Linked DNA regions of Homo sapiens: region 1 is linked to region 2. A link means that fine-mapping ties the variant in region 2 to the expression of a gene that starts in the linked region. Tissue or cell type: whole blood. Region 2 holds a variant in brackets; the other region holds the start of a gene. All regions are shown on one strand. Distances are from middle to middle.

What was found. PIP is the estimated chance that this variant, and not a neighbour inherited with it, causes the effect.
Region 1: it holds the start of ICA1L, and the variant in region 2 is fine-mapped to the expression of ICA1L in whole blood (INTERVAL, PIP 0.95).

Annotation. Positions count from the first base shown.
Region 1 is chr2:202,867,358-202,875,463 of GRCh38, reverse strand. ICA1L (islet cell autoantigen 1 like) reads left to right here and starts at 3,698. Exons shown (of 13, transcript NM_001288622.3): 1 at 3,698-3,845. It overlaps WDR12 (WD repeat domain 12), which reads left to right. Exons shown (of 13, transcript NM_018256.4): 13 at 1-1,203. RefSeq lists silencers at 3,386-3,515, 3,576-3,625, 3,666-4,155.
Region 2 is chr2:203,045,727-203,053,834 of GRCh38, reverse strand. It overlaps NBEAL1 (neurobeachin like 1), which reads right to left. Exons shown (of 56, transcript NM_001378026.1): 4 at 3,860-4,021. LOC124900525 (small nucleolar RNA SNORA1) reads left to right here and starts at 1,417; the gene lies at 1,417-1,550. The variant C/T (reference allele first, on the strand shown) is at 4,526.

The DNA of each region.
Region 1 (8,106 bases), 180 kb after region 2:
TGAGCCAAGATCGCGCCATTGCACTCCATCCTGGGCAACAAGAGCGAAACTCCGTCTCAAAAAAAAAAAAAAAAAAAGTAATACATAAATTTAAGTGACATTTGTGGGTACTAAATTACAATAATATGTTCAGCTTTGCATTTTTTTGCCTTTAAAATTAATTTCAATTTTAGCGTGCCACTAAACGTATTACTGTAATAGTATATAAATGTATAAAGATCAATTTCTGTATATTCTAATAGGAATTGTATATAAGCAAAAATGAATTTTAGAAATTATCCTATTATTCATGTAATTATGTCATTCATGTTATTTAAAGGAAACCACAATGCAGACAGGTTAAGTACCTAGTGTGAAGGTATGTAACCAATTAATGGAGCTGTGCGACATACATCTGAGTAATAAAGACTACAGAGAAAGTATCTTGTTAGGTACTATCTGATACAAAGTTTAGAAACATGTCAAACAATTCTATGTATAGTTGGTGAAAGTGTAATAACATGGCTGAGACTTAATACCAGATGAAGTTCAGTGGTTTCAGGGGGAGGAAATAATTTTTAAAACGATGTCGATAACACTTCACATTTAAAATCATCATAATAATTCTAATTCTAGAATTGTGTCTAATTCTAATACTGTTTCTAGCTTTGCTTGAATAAACAGAAATGTAGTAGGGAAGAGACAGAATGTTTAGCTTGCAGTATCTAATTACTCATTTGGGTATCTGGGAAGATAGCTCTCCATGGCCCCACTGTCACTGACCTATAATGCTTCTCCTGACGTCTTCGGTAAAATCCAACAGATTACAAAGAAACTGGAATGCCTTGAAGAAATAGAGCTTTTTGTGTGATGTCAGATTCAATAGACCTCTAATCCTTAGTAAAACAGTACAAAACAGTAGAATAATTTTTAGTGTTTTCTAATATCAACTGAGGTTTTATTTGGGAGATTAACCAGAGGTTTGCACAAAAACAAAAGTGAAGACCATTAGTCTTTAAAGAAACTAAGACTCTAGGTTTGGATCCCATTTGTGGAGCCCTACATTCCAAGTCATCTAATGTTCTTGTCTAGTTAGCTTGTAAAAGTCTATACAATGGAGGAAAACCCCTTTTTTCCCCTTAGTATAAGTGTATTATATGTTGATAGAAAGGATAGAAAGTTAAATAACAGTTCAGTAAATGTACTTCTAAATGAAATTTAAAAGTACTTTAAAGGTGTTAAATTATTTCACTTTCTAAAGAGGTTTTATGCAACACTAAAATGTAATGACTGAGCTGCCTCCTTTTGTTAAGAGACTAGTGCAAGTAGAGTCTTGCTCTGTCGCCCAGGCTGGAGTTTAGTGGCACAATCCCGGCTTGCAACTTCTGCCTCCTGGGTTCAAGTGATTGTCGTGCCTCAGCCTCCCAAGTAGCTGGGATTACAGGTGCACGCCACCACATGGGGCTAATTTTTGAATTTTTAGTAGAAACAGGGTTTCACCATGTTGGCCAGGCTGTTCTCAAACTCCTGACCACAAGTGCTCCGCTTGCCTCAGTCTCCCAAAGTGCTGGGATTATAGGCTTGAACTACCACGCTCTTCCTAGTGCAAGCCATTTAAACATTGTATCCAACAGCTAAAGAAAGAATTCATTCCACAGGCATTTATGAAATATGAGAGACTTGACTCCTGTCCAGGAGAAGCATCAGCAGCTAGCTCTACATTATTTTCTGATACTATTCCTACACTGTGCCACCGTGTTTCCTTAGCGACTTGTGAAGAAAAAGTGATTATATGAAGTGTAAATACTACACTTCATTAATGGCTTGGAGATACTGTGTATCTTTCTGTAATTTTACCCAGTTAAGTGAATAAAAGCAACAGGCCCGGCCGGTAGCCATTATTCTGACTTCCAGGTGTGTTCCTTGGAGGACTTTAGTCGGCCTCAGATTGAGCTGAAGAAGATATTAGTTTACTGTTCTCTTGACTTAAAACTTCATCTTGTTGGAACAAACATTTTCTAAAATACCCCAAGAACTTTACTATGGGGCATAGTAACATTTGAAAGTCATTTCGCTTGCCACTTTATTTATTCCTTGGTGAGAAAGATAATCTGTTCTTTTCAGATATTTTATAATGTATCCTTCAGTTGTGAATTAGCTATCTTTGTTTCATTTCGTTCATTGATGGATTCAACATTCATTCAGGACCTAGTTTGTATTAGGCACTGTGCTAGGTGCTAAGGCTGCAGAAATGCGTAAGGGAGGAGCAGCTTTGAAGCAGCTCGGCACCTAATGGGGAAGACAGGCAGGTAGATCGTTACAGCCAGAGAGCAGTATGCCCCTTAGGAGAAATGCCTCATTTGGTAAGATTCAGGAAAGCCATCCCAAGGAAATAGGTCAATCACTCATGTTTGCCAAACGCTAATTTTTACCCTTCTGAGGAAAGCTGTAGACTCCTCAAAAAAACAAACAAAATTTTGCACATAATCTCAGGTATTTGCCTATTCCTTGAAATCCAAATATCTCAGGGTAAAAGTCTAAAGACATTTAATGTTTTCAGTCCAAATTAACCCTCTGTAGCTTGCCACTTTTCCTATTCTAAAAGTATAATTTCCAGGTTAAGGTGAGTATTTTGTACTGTTAATATTCCAGAACCTCGGCCGGGCGCGGTGGCTCATGCCTGTAATCTCAGCACTTTGGGAGGCCGAGGCGGGCGGATCACGAGGTCAGGAGATCGAGACCATCCTGGCTAACACGGTGAAACCCCGACTCTACTAAAAATACAAAAAACTTAGCCAGGCGTGGTGGCAGGCGCCTGTAGTCCCAGCTATTCGGGAGGCTGAGGCAGGAGAATGGCGTGAACCCGGGAGGCGGAGCTTGCAGTGAGCCGAGATCGCGCCACTGTACTCCGGCCTGGGCGACAGAGCGAGACTCCGTCTCAAATAAAATAAAATAAAATAAATTCTAGACTCACCCCATCTTTGTCATCATACAGATTTTAATTATCACCTCGAGTGTTAACCTTTTAATTCTTTGCTAGCCTATGTGTCGCAGTTGTAATTAATAATTCGTATTCTGCTGTTTTAGGAAAGTTCTTTTAAGTTTTGGAGTCACCTTTAAAAAGAATGAAGTTTGAATTTATTAAATTATCTCCTACTAGTAGTAAATAGTTTTGCCTTCCTTTTTGTTTTTTTCCTGAGACTTTCAGGATCCGGTTTTACCTTTTACTCTTGAAGATTCATCATAAACATTATGGATATGGATATGTGCATTTGAGATTGGTTATGAACGGTTGTTAACTTAGACCTCTTTAAACCTTTAACACGGGAGTTAAATACAGCGGGCGAACGCTTTCCGCCTAAGGAGCACTGGTGCTAAGGGGCCGCCCCAGAAGGCCCGGCAGGTCCGGGGGTGGGGGTGCTCGGAGGGAGCCGGGAGGGCCCCGGGCCAATGCCTTCCACTTCCCCACGCCTCAGAGAGCTCACACTCAGCTCCTCGTAATGTTCTGACCGGTTTGGTGTTTGTCATTTCACTTTATTAAGTAAAGAGGAAATCGGGAAAGGAGGAATAGAGAGGGTCCCCGAGTTCATTCAAGAGCAGACCGAGAGATGCTCCGATCCCGAGTCGGGCCGGTGGCGGGGTCAGGCCGGCGCCCGAGGGGGGCGAACGCGGACGCCAGGTCGCGCGGTTTAAATCTCCCGCCTCCCGCAGCGGGAGCCTGACACCTCCACGCACTGGTGCGGAGGGGCACTGGCTGCCGGAGGGCCGGGAGTCGGCGCGGGGCTCGCGGGCGGTGGCCGGAACGGGTGCCGGGACGGATCACCGTACGGCCGAACGCGACCCGAGGAGGCGGAAGAGCGGCGCCGGTAAGCTTCTGCTGCCTCCTGTCCGCCCCTATTCCCCCTCAGGCGGCGGTCAGGCCCGGAGACCAAATCCCGGGTTCCCATGGCGACGCCGGGAGGCGGGGGCGCGGCGGGAGGCTCCGGCCACACGCGCGCGCGCGCGGCTTCTCGGGGCCTTGCTGGCCTCCTCGGTTCTCTGGGGGACCCCGGCCGCTGCCTGCGGCCTTCTTCCAGGCGAGGCCCTGCTCGGGGTTCTTCCGGCCTCCCCCCAGGCAAAACCCGCAAGGAGCGGTTTCTGGCGTGGCTGGGTCCCCTGCGGCGGAAGGGCGCCTCCCGGCCACGCTCGCTGTAGTGAAGGAGCGCGGCAGCCTGGGGCTCGTTTGGGTGATTTCCCTCGGCGGTGGAGGTCGCTCCTAATAGAGGCGGCGGCGGATCACCCGAACAGCCTTCAGGTGCTTCCCTGCTGACCTCTTTTTAACGTGGTGCTTATTTTTATTTCGCTATTATTTTGTAATGGGAATGTCTTCCTTAGAAACTAATTGGCAACCGATGGATAAAAACAAAACATAGTAAATGTGCAGTTTGAGCTGAACTGCAGAATGCACGGGCCCGCGAGGGGCTCCGCGCACAGATCCTGCTCCTTAGGCCGGCAACCCGACCCCACGGCACAGATATGGCTCCTGGAAACGCGCGTCAGCTGGTCAGGTGCCCAGGTGATGTCAGTGGTCAGATACCTGATGCTCTAAGGAAGACGGAGAGGGGAAAGCGGGGAGTCCATCCTGGCAGCTCACCCGCGATGCTGGGGCGTTGCCAGTAGAGGGGGTGGAATCATTTTTCGTGTAATAGATGATCTTGATGCACACAGCATAAAAGCTGTTATAAACTATGGGTCTCTGTAAAATAGATTGTTGGGAAGGTAACATTTTTCCATGGTTTTGATTTTTCCCAAAAGTATTTATGTATTGATTTATTTGGTTCTGACTCAGGCGACGTACTGTAAGACGATATTACTTTAATCATCTTCACATCAGTATTTATGGAATAGCCACAGGTGCCTCATCCTTTAGTAGGAGTTAATTATACATTTACTGGCCGAGTAAACATCTCCGAATGGTATGTATGTATTTTTATGTGACCAAAATTTTAAATCGTTTAGTATTTGTTATCTGTGCCTATCATACCCAGTATTCTTTGAAATCTCTTTATTTAATAGTTCAAAATGATTGTTTATCTAGTCGTTGAAACAGCTATGTGGAAGGCAGTGTTCTAATTACCAGTTTAATTTTAGAGTTAGAAGGGTGCTCAGAGATCAGCCAGTCCAAAGAGGAAAAATTGCAAATATGAGAACTGGTGGAAAAAGTAGGATGCCATATTTTTATTATAAATATCATAAAAATATAAAACAAAGTTTATACCAGTTATGGAACTAGGACCAGATATCAAAATATTAGATACAAAATAGATAATATACTGTCTTGTTCTACTATACTGCCAAACTTGGTGATTTCATTGTGTGATTCTATATTTACATTTTTTCTGTACTTTTATACTTTAGCTTTTTCAGTACTCACTGCGCTTCCTTTAAAATTTTATTCTTTTTATATTCTTTAACAACAACAGATGGGATATGTGAGTTTTAAATATATCTGTAACTGGAAAGATTTCCTCGTTCGAAGTAGATTTTGTTATTTAATAATATTCTTATTACCCTCTTCCATTTTGTCTATTTTTCATTCATCACTTAAGTTTTGTGTTTTTTTCGGAAATCAAAATTTTCAAACTTGTACTTGGATCCAGTATTCACCATTAAAATTTAGTCACCTTCTATGTATCTCATTATTATTTTGCCATTATTGACTCACTTGCATGTAACACTAGGGTTTTAAAATTCCTTTTTTAATTTAGTTGAGATAAAAAAAGACTAAAATTCCTTTTTTAATTTAGTTGAGATTAAAAAAAAGACTAAAGTAACACAATATCTATATTTACAGAGGCCGACATTAACAACTGTTAACATTTTGTTGTATTTCTTTCTAGTATTTTTTTAGATAAGGAAATAAAACATTTCCAATAAAGCTGAAGTCTCATCCCACCCATCCGTTATCAGGTACTCAACATCATGAGTTGGTATCTGTGTTTTGTGTTTTTTAAATTATATTTTATACATGTCTATTATTGCATGTGTTTTTAAATTTTAAATAAGTTACATCATATTGCATATAGCCTGCACTTGTGTTTTTCACTCAGTGTTATTTTATTTTATTTTATTTCTTATTTTATTTTTTTGAGACAGAGTCTCGCTCTGTCGCCCAGGCTGAGTGCAGTGGCAGGATCTCGGCTCACTGCAAGCTCCGCCTCCCGGGTTCACGCCATTCTCCTGCCTCAGCCTCCGGAGTAGCTGGGACTACAGGCGCCCGCCACCACGCCTGGCTGATTTTTTGTATTTTTAGTAGAGTCGGGGTTTCACCTGTTAGCCAGGATGGTCTCGATCTCCTGACCTCGTGATCCGCCCGCCTCAGCCTCCCAAAGTACTGGGATTACAGGCGTGAGCCACCACGCCTGGCCTCACTCAGTATTATTTTAAAAATTGATTTGGATTGATATTGATAGTTTTAGCCACTGATGTATTTGTTTTAAATGTTTTTTGTTGTTGTTGTTGTTGTTGTTGTTGTTTTGAGACAGAGTCTTGCTCTGTCACCCAGACTGGAGTGCAGTGGCGCGATCTCAGCTCACTGCAACCTCTGCCTCCTGGGTTCAAGCGATTCTTCTGTCTCAGCCTCCCAAGTAGCTGGGACTACAAGCACATGCCATCACGCCCAGCTAATTTTCTTATTTTTAGTAGAGATGGGGGTTTTACCATATTGTTCAGGCTGGTCTCGAACTCCTGACCTCAGGTGATCCACCAGCCTCAGCCTCCCAAATTGCTGGGATTACAGGCGTGAGCCACCGCGCCCGGCCTTAATTGTTTTATATAGTATTCTGTCATATGAATATACTACATTTTTATCTGTATAGCTTTTTATTAATATACTTAGATTGTTTCTAGTTTTTTATTACAATGCTAAAATAAGTAGACATTCATTTGGTAAATACTTATTGAGTATCTACTGTGTGTCTTGCACTGTTTGCTCACAAACAGATGAAAATCTCTGCCCACATAAAGCTTTAAATACCTAGCGGTGGAATTGCTAGGTCATGAAGTAGCAGCATGTTTAGTTTTATGAGAAACTGCTAATCATTTTCCAAAATGGTTATACTATCTAATGCTTTCATCAGCAATATATGAGTTCCAGTTACTCACATTCTCACCAATTTTGGTGTTGTCAGTCTTTGTCATTTAAGCTATTACCATGGATGTGTATTGGTATATCATTGTGGGTTGAGAATTCATTCCTGCTCTTTTATCAAAAGTTTTTTTTTGTTTTTGAGGGGAAATTCAGATAATATACAATTAGCCTTTTTTTTTCTTTTTTTACTTTGGCTAAACAAACCCAAACAACCGTTTCGAAGTGTACAATTCAGTGATATTTATTGTTTTCACAATGTTGTGAGATCACCAGTTCTCTCTAGTTTGAAAACTTTTTCATCACCCCATAAAAACACCCCTTACTCATTAATTACTTGGTTTGTAGTTTTTCTGTTGCTGAGTGGTATTCCATTGCGCAGTATACTATAATTTGTTTATTCACCTGTTAATAGATATTCTAATTTTTGGCCATTTTGAATAAAGCTGGCAAGAACATTTACAGGTCTTTGGGCATATTTTTCATTTATCTTAGGTAAATACATAAGAATACAATTGCTGGATTGTGTGCGTTTCCAAGAAACTCAATTTTTTCTGAAGTGGTTATACCCATTTTATATTCCCACGACCAATGTATGAAGGTTCCAGTTGTTCCTCATTGTTGCCAGCACTTTGAATTGACAGATTGGTTGTTAGCAAGATCAAATGGGGGTGTGCTGATATCTCTTTGTGGTTTTAATTTTTGTTTCCCTGATGAATAATGTTGAATATATTTTTATGTGCTTAATGGCCATTAGTATACAGTCATATACTGCATAAAGGTGTTTTGGTCAATGATGGACCACAGATATAATAATAGTCACATAAGATTGTAATAGCATATTTTTATTGTACCGTTTCAGTGGTTAGACATGTTTAGATACACAAATACTTACCATCATTGTGTTGCAGTTGCCTACAGTATTCAGTACAGTAACATGCTGTACAGGTTTGTAGCCTGGGAGCAATAGCTCCTAGGTATGTGGTAGGCTTATAACATCT
Region 2 (8,108 bases):
TTTGCAGACCAGATACCTGCCAGACACAGTGGCTCATGCCTGTAATCCCAATATTTTGGGAGGGTGAGGTGGGAGGATCGCTTGAGCCCAGGAGTTAGAGACCAGCCTGGGCAATATAGTGAGACCTCATCTCTACAAAAAATTAAAAAAAATCAGCCAAGCATGGTGGCATGTACCTGCGGTCCCACTTACTTGGGGTGGGGGGAACTGAAGAAGGAGGATAACTTGAGGCTGCAGTGAGCTGTGATCATGCCACCGCACCTCAGGCAACAGAACTCACTGCACCTGGGCAACAGAGTAAAACCCTGTCTCAAAACAACAACAACAACGACGACGACAAAAAAAACCCAGATACCTGATAAAGGAATTACATCTCAAAACAGTCAAAGATGTCTTAAAACTTAATAAGAAAACAATTCAATTTTTAAAAATGAGCAAAAGATCTAAATAGACACTTCACCAAAGAAGATACAAATGGTATATAGCCATATGAAAAGATGGTGAACATCTTTTGTCATTAGGGAATTGCAAATTAAAACAATAAGATACTACAAACACCTATTAAAATGGCTAAAATATAAAAGAATAGTATAATCCAGTATTGGAAACCATGAAGAGCAACAGGAACTCTCATTCATTGTTGGTGGGAATGCAAAATGGTATAGCCATTTTGGTAGACAATTTTGCACTGACAAAGCTAAACATAAGCTTACCGTATGATACAGCAATTATACTCTTCAGCATTTACCTAAATGAGTTGAAAACTTATGTGTATGCAAAATCTGCACACAGATGTTTTTAGCAGCTTTATTCATAACTTCCAAAAACTGGAAGTAACCAAGATGTCCTGCAACAGGGGAATGAATAAACAAACTGTGGTATGTCCATAAGTAGAGTATTATTCTGTGACAAAAGAAATGGGCTATCAAGCTACAAACACATGGAGGAGGACCAGGTGCGGTGGTTCATGCCTATAGTCCCAGCACCTTGGGAGGTCAAGGCGGAAGGATCACTTGAGCCCTGGAGTTTGAGACCAGCTTGAGCAACATGGCGAAACCCCTTCTCTACAAAAAATACAAATAAATAAATAAATAAATAAATAAATAAATAAATAACTGGGCATGGTGGCATGTACCTGTAGTCTCAGCTACTCAGAGGCTAAGGTGGAAAGATAAATTGAGCCCAGGAGGTCAAGGATGCAATGAGCCCTTATCAAGCAGCTGCACTCCAGCATGGGTGACAGAGTAAGACCTTGTCTAACAAACAAACAAACAAACAAGAAAAGTCATGGAGGACCCTTAAATGCATACTGCTAAGTGAAGGAAGCCAGTCTGAAAAGGCTACATTCTGTATGATTCTAATTATGACACCCTGGTGAAAGCAAAACTAAAGACACCATTAAAATATCAGTGGTTAAGCCTCATTCTAGATGAGAATGGGTACTGCTGATCATGGTGTCCAAAAAACTTTATGTGGCTAAATTGAGACACAGGCTATGCTTCCATCACAGTACACATATTGCAGTGGTGACAATGAAACCTGTAACATTTGGTATGCTTATGATTAAAAAAAAAAAAAATCAGTGGTTGACAGAGGTTGGGGCGGGCAGGGGTATGGGGTGTGTGTGTGTGGGTGTGTAAGGAATGAATAGGTGGAGCACAGGCCATTTTTAGTGTAGGAAAACTATTCTATATGATCCTATAATGATGATTATGTCAAATTTATATATGACAACATAAATTAGTCAAAACCCATGAAACTATACAACACAAATAGTGAACCCTAATGTGCACATGGACCTTAGTTAATAATGTATAAATACTGGTTCATCAGCTGTAATAAATGTATCATACTAATGTAAGATATTAGTAATAGAGGAAACTGAGGGGTATGGGAAAGGAGTATGTGGGAATTCTAGATTTATATAAAAACAGCTCTAAAACATAAAGTTTATTAAAGTTTTTAAATGGAGCTTTAAAAAAGTAAAGTGAGGTCTCTGGAAATAGAAACATGTTCTGTGACTGGTAGCTATTGAACATTAAATTTATCATAAGAAACTATCTACTACCCAAAAAATTTTTTTTCAACCAAAAAATTTGTTGAGCATTTCAGTGCTTCCCTCTATTACCAAAATCTAAACATAATGAATTGAAAACAAATATCTGTAGGATTTTTGATTTCAGCAAAATTGTAGTAGGTAGCTAGCAGGAAAATATAGCAAATTATCAGAGGTCAACTTATGTCTTACTACCTGAATAAACCCTTTCCCTTTAACCTTTTTTTTTTTTTTGAGAAGAGTCTCGCTCCGTCACCCAGGCTGAAGTGCAATGGCATGATCTCGGCACACTGAAACCTCCGCCTCCCAGGTTCAAGCAATTTTCCTGCCTCTCAGCCTCCTGAGTAGCTGGGATTTCAGGCACCCGCCACCATGCCTGGCTAATTTTTACATTTTTTTGGAGAGACAGGGTTTCACCATGTTGGCCAAGCTGGTCTCAAACTCCTGACCTCAAGCGATCCACCTCCTCGGCCTTCCAAAGTGCTGGGATTACAGGTGTGAGCAACTGTACCTGGCTGCATACTTCAACCCTTATAATTCTTGTATTATTTTTCCAAATTTTAAGGATGAGGAAAAACACACAAATAAAAACATGTCTAAGGCTCTGGGAGAGCATAAATTAGGGGTGAAATGTTTTAGCAATTATTGATCAATCATTCCATAATTCCTGCAAAGGCAATGAGAAATTAAGCCAAAGGTGACTAAGAGGTAAATTAAGTCCCTATTCATCCACTAATTAATTATAAAATATTTATAAAACAAATAATGTATGTTTTAGAAAGTGGCTTCCAAAAAGAAAATAGATTTAAAGCTATAGAATGTAGCTTCCGAAATGAAGATAGGTTTCAAGAGGAATATGAACCAATAAACCAATGGTTCTTGAATTCTTATATGCAGATGCCCCTAAACCAATGGTTCTTGAATTCTTATATGCAGTGCCCCTAAACTAATGGTTCTTGAATTCTTACATGTAGATGAATGTGGAATGCCTGAAAAATCCAGATTTTGAGCCCTTTTGAAACAGAATTTCCATAAGCAAGGCTCAAGCTCTATATTCTACTAAGTTTCCTTGTTGTTATTCATGCATACCAAAATGTAAGCACCACAGACCTAATTTATAAATGTGGGAAATATGATAACCTACAGGATAATTATACTTTATTTGATAAAATAATAAAATGAAATATCTGAATGATTTATTTTCACAGATAATAACACAGAGTAATAAAAATGCATATACATTTACAGGTGAGAACCATATGAAAAATACTGGTACAGTAATTTCTTGCTGAAGAAAAACTGTCATTGACTTTAATATAATTTTTTTAAATGTTGGCTAATGTTGCTATAACTAGGTATAGTAACTAAAAGGATTTCCAACATACTAACAAACCACAAGCCTATTCCAAAAAGTGCACTTACTCTTTAAAGCTCCATATCAACTACAAACATCACTAATAATAAACAAAATTAATTATTATTTTGGTAATGTAACAATTATATTAAAACAGATAATTAGCTTATTTTTTCTTTTTTTCTTTTTTATTTACTTAATTTATTAAAGTTCTGGGATATGTATGCAGAATGTGCAGGTTTGTTACATAGGTATACACATGCCATAGTGGTTTGCTGCATCCTTCAACCCATCATCTACATTAGGTATTTCTCCTAATGTTATCCCTCTCCTAGCACCCTACCCACCAATAGGCCCAGTGTGTGATGTTCCCCTCCTCATCTCCATGTGTTCTCATTGTTCAACTCCCACCTATGAGTGAAAACTAGCTTATTTTTTCTACTAGATACCTGCAAAGAATAATGAAGAACTTGACAAGCAAAATTGACAAGGCTTGCTGTTGTTCCTCTAACCCATCTGCCATTTTCTGAACACACTGTAGAAGCTGGATCCTCAGAACCTGCAGAATATTATCAGGAAGCAGAGATATTCCTGGAGGCATATCATCTACCCTACAACAGAAAGGGAAAAAAATAAGAAGCCTGTTGAAATACAAGAAGAAAATCTCTGGCATTTAAATGAACTTCATTTTCAGCCCAAATCCTAAAGAAGCTCTTTTATTTATTCCAGATACTCTGTGCCTTCTCGTCTGCAACACAGATGTAGCACATGATGATTAGTAACTAGATTAGTAACTAGAAGTAACTAGAAGATTAGTAACTAGAAGATTATTAGAGCAGAGTGGTTTTTCTTATTTCAGAAGAGGCTTACTAAAGAGAGAGACAGACTATTTGATATCTTCAATTGTACTATTTTTAATGAAAATACTTAGAATAAATTATGTTCCACTTAAAAATACTATGTATACTAAATACTGTGTATAGCAGTGTGCATACCATTTCTAAAAGAAACAATAACTGTAAAGTAAAAATGAAGTATCTACATAACTAGTTTAATATGTCAACTGTTGGCCAGGTGCAGTGGCTCACGCCTGTAATCCCAGCACTTTTGGAGGC[C/T]GAGGTGGGTGGATCACGAGGTTAGGAGCTCGAGACCAGCCTGGTCAACATGGTGAACCCCATCTCTACTAAAAATACAAAAAATTAGCTGGTTTCATTGTATCATTTTACCAAATGAAGTGTAATTATCCTATAGGTTATCACATTTCCCACATTTATAAATTCGTCCCAGCTACTCAGGAGGCTGAGGCAGAAGAATCGCTTGAACCCGGGAGGCAGAGGTTGCAGTGAGCCAAGATTGTGCCACTGTACTCCAGCCTGGGTGACAGAGTGAGACTCTGTCTCAAAAAAAAAAAATTTGTCAACTGCTTTACTAAACATCATTGTTTTAGTATAGACTCCCCAAGCCATGTGATCAGAAGAGGGAGAAAAGATAACCAGTAAAAGGAAAGAAGAGAGATAAAAGGGTATTAAAAAAAAAAAAAAAGGAAATGTAGAGCTCTGAGCATGGGCATCAACAGAAGACTTTAAAAAGTAATATATCAACATTTTGTGACAAATGGTTTCTATGTAAGACTATATGGTTCTTTAAGGGCAAATGCCAACATCAGACATGAGTGGTTCCTCTGGTGTTTCTTTCATAATAAAAACCCATACCTGGATTCAACGTCTAAAGACATGGGTACTAAATCTCACCTCTGTAACATAGAGCTGATCATTTAACCTTTGAAGTTCCCTATGGACGCTGAAGTACCCAACCTCATGAAATAATAAATCTGTGTTCCGAGAGGAGATGGTTTTAAGTGGGCTACGCAGATGAGCACAAGAGATGTATGGAAGGTCACTCCTGTGGTCACACAACCAAAACCAGAGAATACCTCCCTCCCTCCCCATCAAAAATCAGTGGCTTAAATAAAACCCTATCATCTCTGGGGATGGCAGAAAATCCAAGGCATAACAAAGCATGGATTTTTTTTTTTTTTTTTTTTGAGATGGAGTCTCGCTGTGTTGCCAGGCTGGAGTGCAGTGGCGCGATCTCAGCTCACTGCAACCTCCGCCTCCTAGATTCAAGGGATTCTCATGCCTCAGGCTCCCGAGTAGCTGGGATTACAGGCACGTGCCACCACACCCACCTAATTTTTGTATTTTTCGTAGAGACGGGGTTTCACCATGTTGGCCAGGATGGTCTCAATCTCCTGACCTCGTGATCCACCCACCTTGGCCCTCCAAAGTAAGCCACCGTGCCCAGCTCAAAGCATGGATATCTTACCAGCCTGAAAGATGTGGGCTTAGAATCAAGGCATGTTGAGTCACAGATAATGAAAAAAATGCAGTATTTCTTATAAACCTGTTTCTGGCCTGAGGTCTATACCTGGTTGAAACCTATGCCAAATCAGCTAAGAAATAGAAAATTGGCTGGGCAACATAGCAAGACTTCATCTCCACTGGAAAAAAAAAAATTAACCAGGTATAGTGGTATATGTCTGTGGTCCCAGCTACTTGGAGGCTAAGGCAGGAGGATCGCTTGAGCCCAAGAGTTCGAGGTTGCAGTGAGCTATGATCATGCCACTGCACTTCAGCCTGGTTGAGACAGAAAGACCATCTCTCAAAAAAAAAAAAAAAAAAAATAGAAAGAAATAGAAAATTGTGACTGCAACTTCTCTCACTATTATAGAGTGTTCAAAGAGATTTTTACACCATACTTAAAAATTGCTCCTAACCTGAATGGGTAGACAATTCCTGTGCTGCCACAGAAGGCATTACAGCAGAGGGACCTGCAGAGAGAGGTTAATATTTCCAGGGAAATGAGAGATAGGAAATATCCTGGCAAGTCCAAAAGACTTGTGGAAGACCTGAAGACATTGACCTAAGGAGAAGGACAGTAGAAACACAACTGAAGGGGCCAACATCTTAGAGTTCATCTAAAAAATGGAAGTTATCATACAAGTAGTATGTTCTATCAATATTTAATATTCTGTTAATATTTTAATAAAACAGATACAAAATAAAATTTTAAACATGAATGAAAAAATACCCATTCTCATGTAGGTTGCCAGTACATGACAGGTGGTTGCCAATACTTCTACAGGCAACTACATGTCTACTTGTATGTGTTTGTTTTTTTTTTTTTGAGATGGAGTTTCGCTCTTGTTGCCCAGGCTGGAGGTGCAATGGCGCAATCTCAGCTCACTGCAACCTTGGCCTCCCGCATTCAAGCGATTCTGCTGCCTCAGTCTTCTGAGTAGCTGGGATTACAGGCATGTGCCACCACGCCCGCTAATTTTGTATTTTTAGTAGAGACGGGTTTTCTCCATGTTGGTCAGCCTTGCCACCACGCCCACTAATTTTGTATTTGTAGTAGAGACGGGGTTTCTCCATGTTGGTCAGGCAGGTCTCGAAATCCCGACCTCAGATGATCTGCCCGCCTCGGCCTCCCAAAGTGCTGGCATTACAGGCAGAAGCCACTGCATCCGACCTATATGTCTACTTTTTAAGGAATGGTAGAGCTTTCAATGTGAACTGCTGTGGTCTGAATGCTGGTATTCCCCCAAATTTCATATGTTGTAAACTAACTCCCAATGCAATAGTATGAAGAGGTGAGGCATTTAGGAAGTGATTAAGCCAAGAAGGCTCTGCCCTCATGGATGGGATTACTGTCTTTATAAACAGAGTGAAGGGAGTTGCCCTGCCCCTTCCTCTGTGTGAGGACACAGTATTCATCCCTCTGCTGTGTAAGGACACAGCAAGAAACAGAAGACAGGCCCTCACCAGACACCAAATCTGCTGGTGTCTTAATCTTAGACTTCCCAGCTTCCAGAACGGTGAACAGTAAATATCTACTGTTGTTCTTGGCCGGGTGCGGTGGCTCATGCCTGTAGTCCCAGTACTTTGGGAGGCCGAGGCGGGTGGATCACCTGAGGTCAGGAGATGGAGACCATCTTGGCTAACACGGTGAAACCCCATGTCTACTAAAAATACAAAAAAAATTAGCCGAGCGTGGTGGCGGGTGCCTGTAGTCCTGGCTACTCGAGAGGCTGAGGCAGGAGAATGGCGTGAACCCGGGAGGCAGAGGTTGCAGTGAGCCAAGATCGGGCCACTGCACTCCCGCCTGGGCAACAGAGTGAGACTCTGTCTCAAATAAATAAATAAATAAATAAATATCTACTGTTGTTCCTTAAAAAAAAAAAGTTTCTAGTTCTGTAATCTGCAATTTTTTTTAAGAGATAGGGTCTTGCTATATTGTCCAGGCTGGTCTCTAATTCCTGGCCTTAAGCTAGCCTCCCACCTTGGCCTCCCAAAGGGCTGGGATTATAGGCTTGAGCCATTGTGCCCAACCTATAAAATTTGAGTATCAACTGCCCTATTTTACAGGGGTCTCAAACCAGAAGGTTAATATGCATTTTCAGCTGTGAAATATAGAAAGATCTATAAAAATGTAATATATTTTAAACATGCTATCACTAAAGCTTCAGAATCTTTTCATAAGCCACTGTATACTAATTTCCTATCCCTTTAAGAAAAATGCCCAAATCTGAATGGAGCTCCCTAAAGCATGCCTATGATTAAATGACAATTATACTTTATAGTTACCTCTTCTTCAGCTTATGCTTAATATGAAGTATTGCTAGTATTTTTACACTGA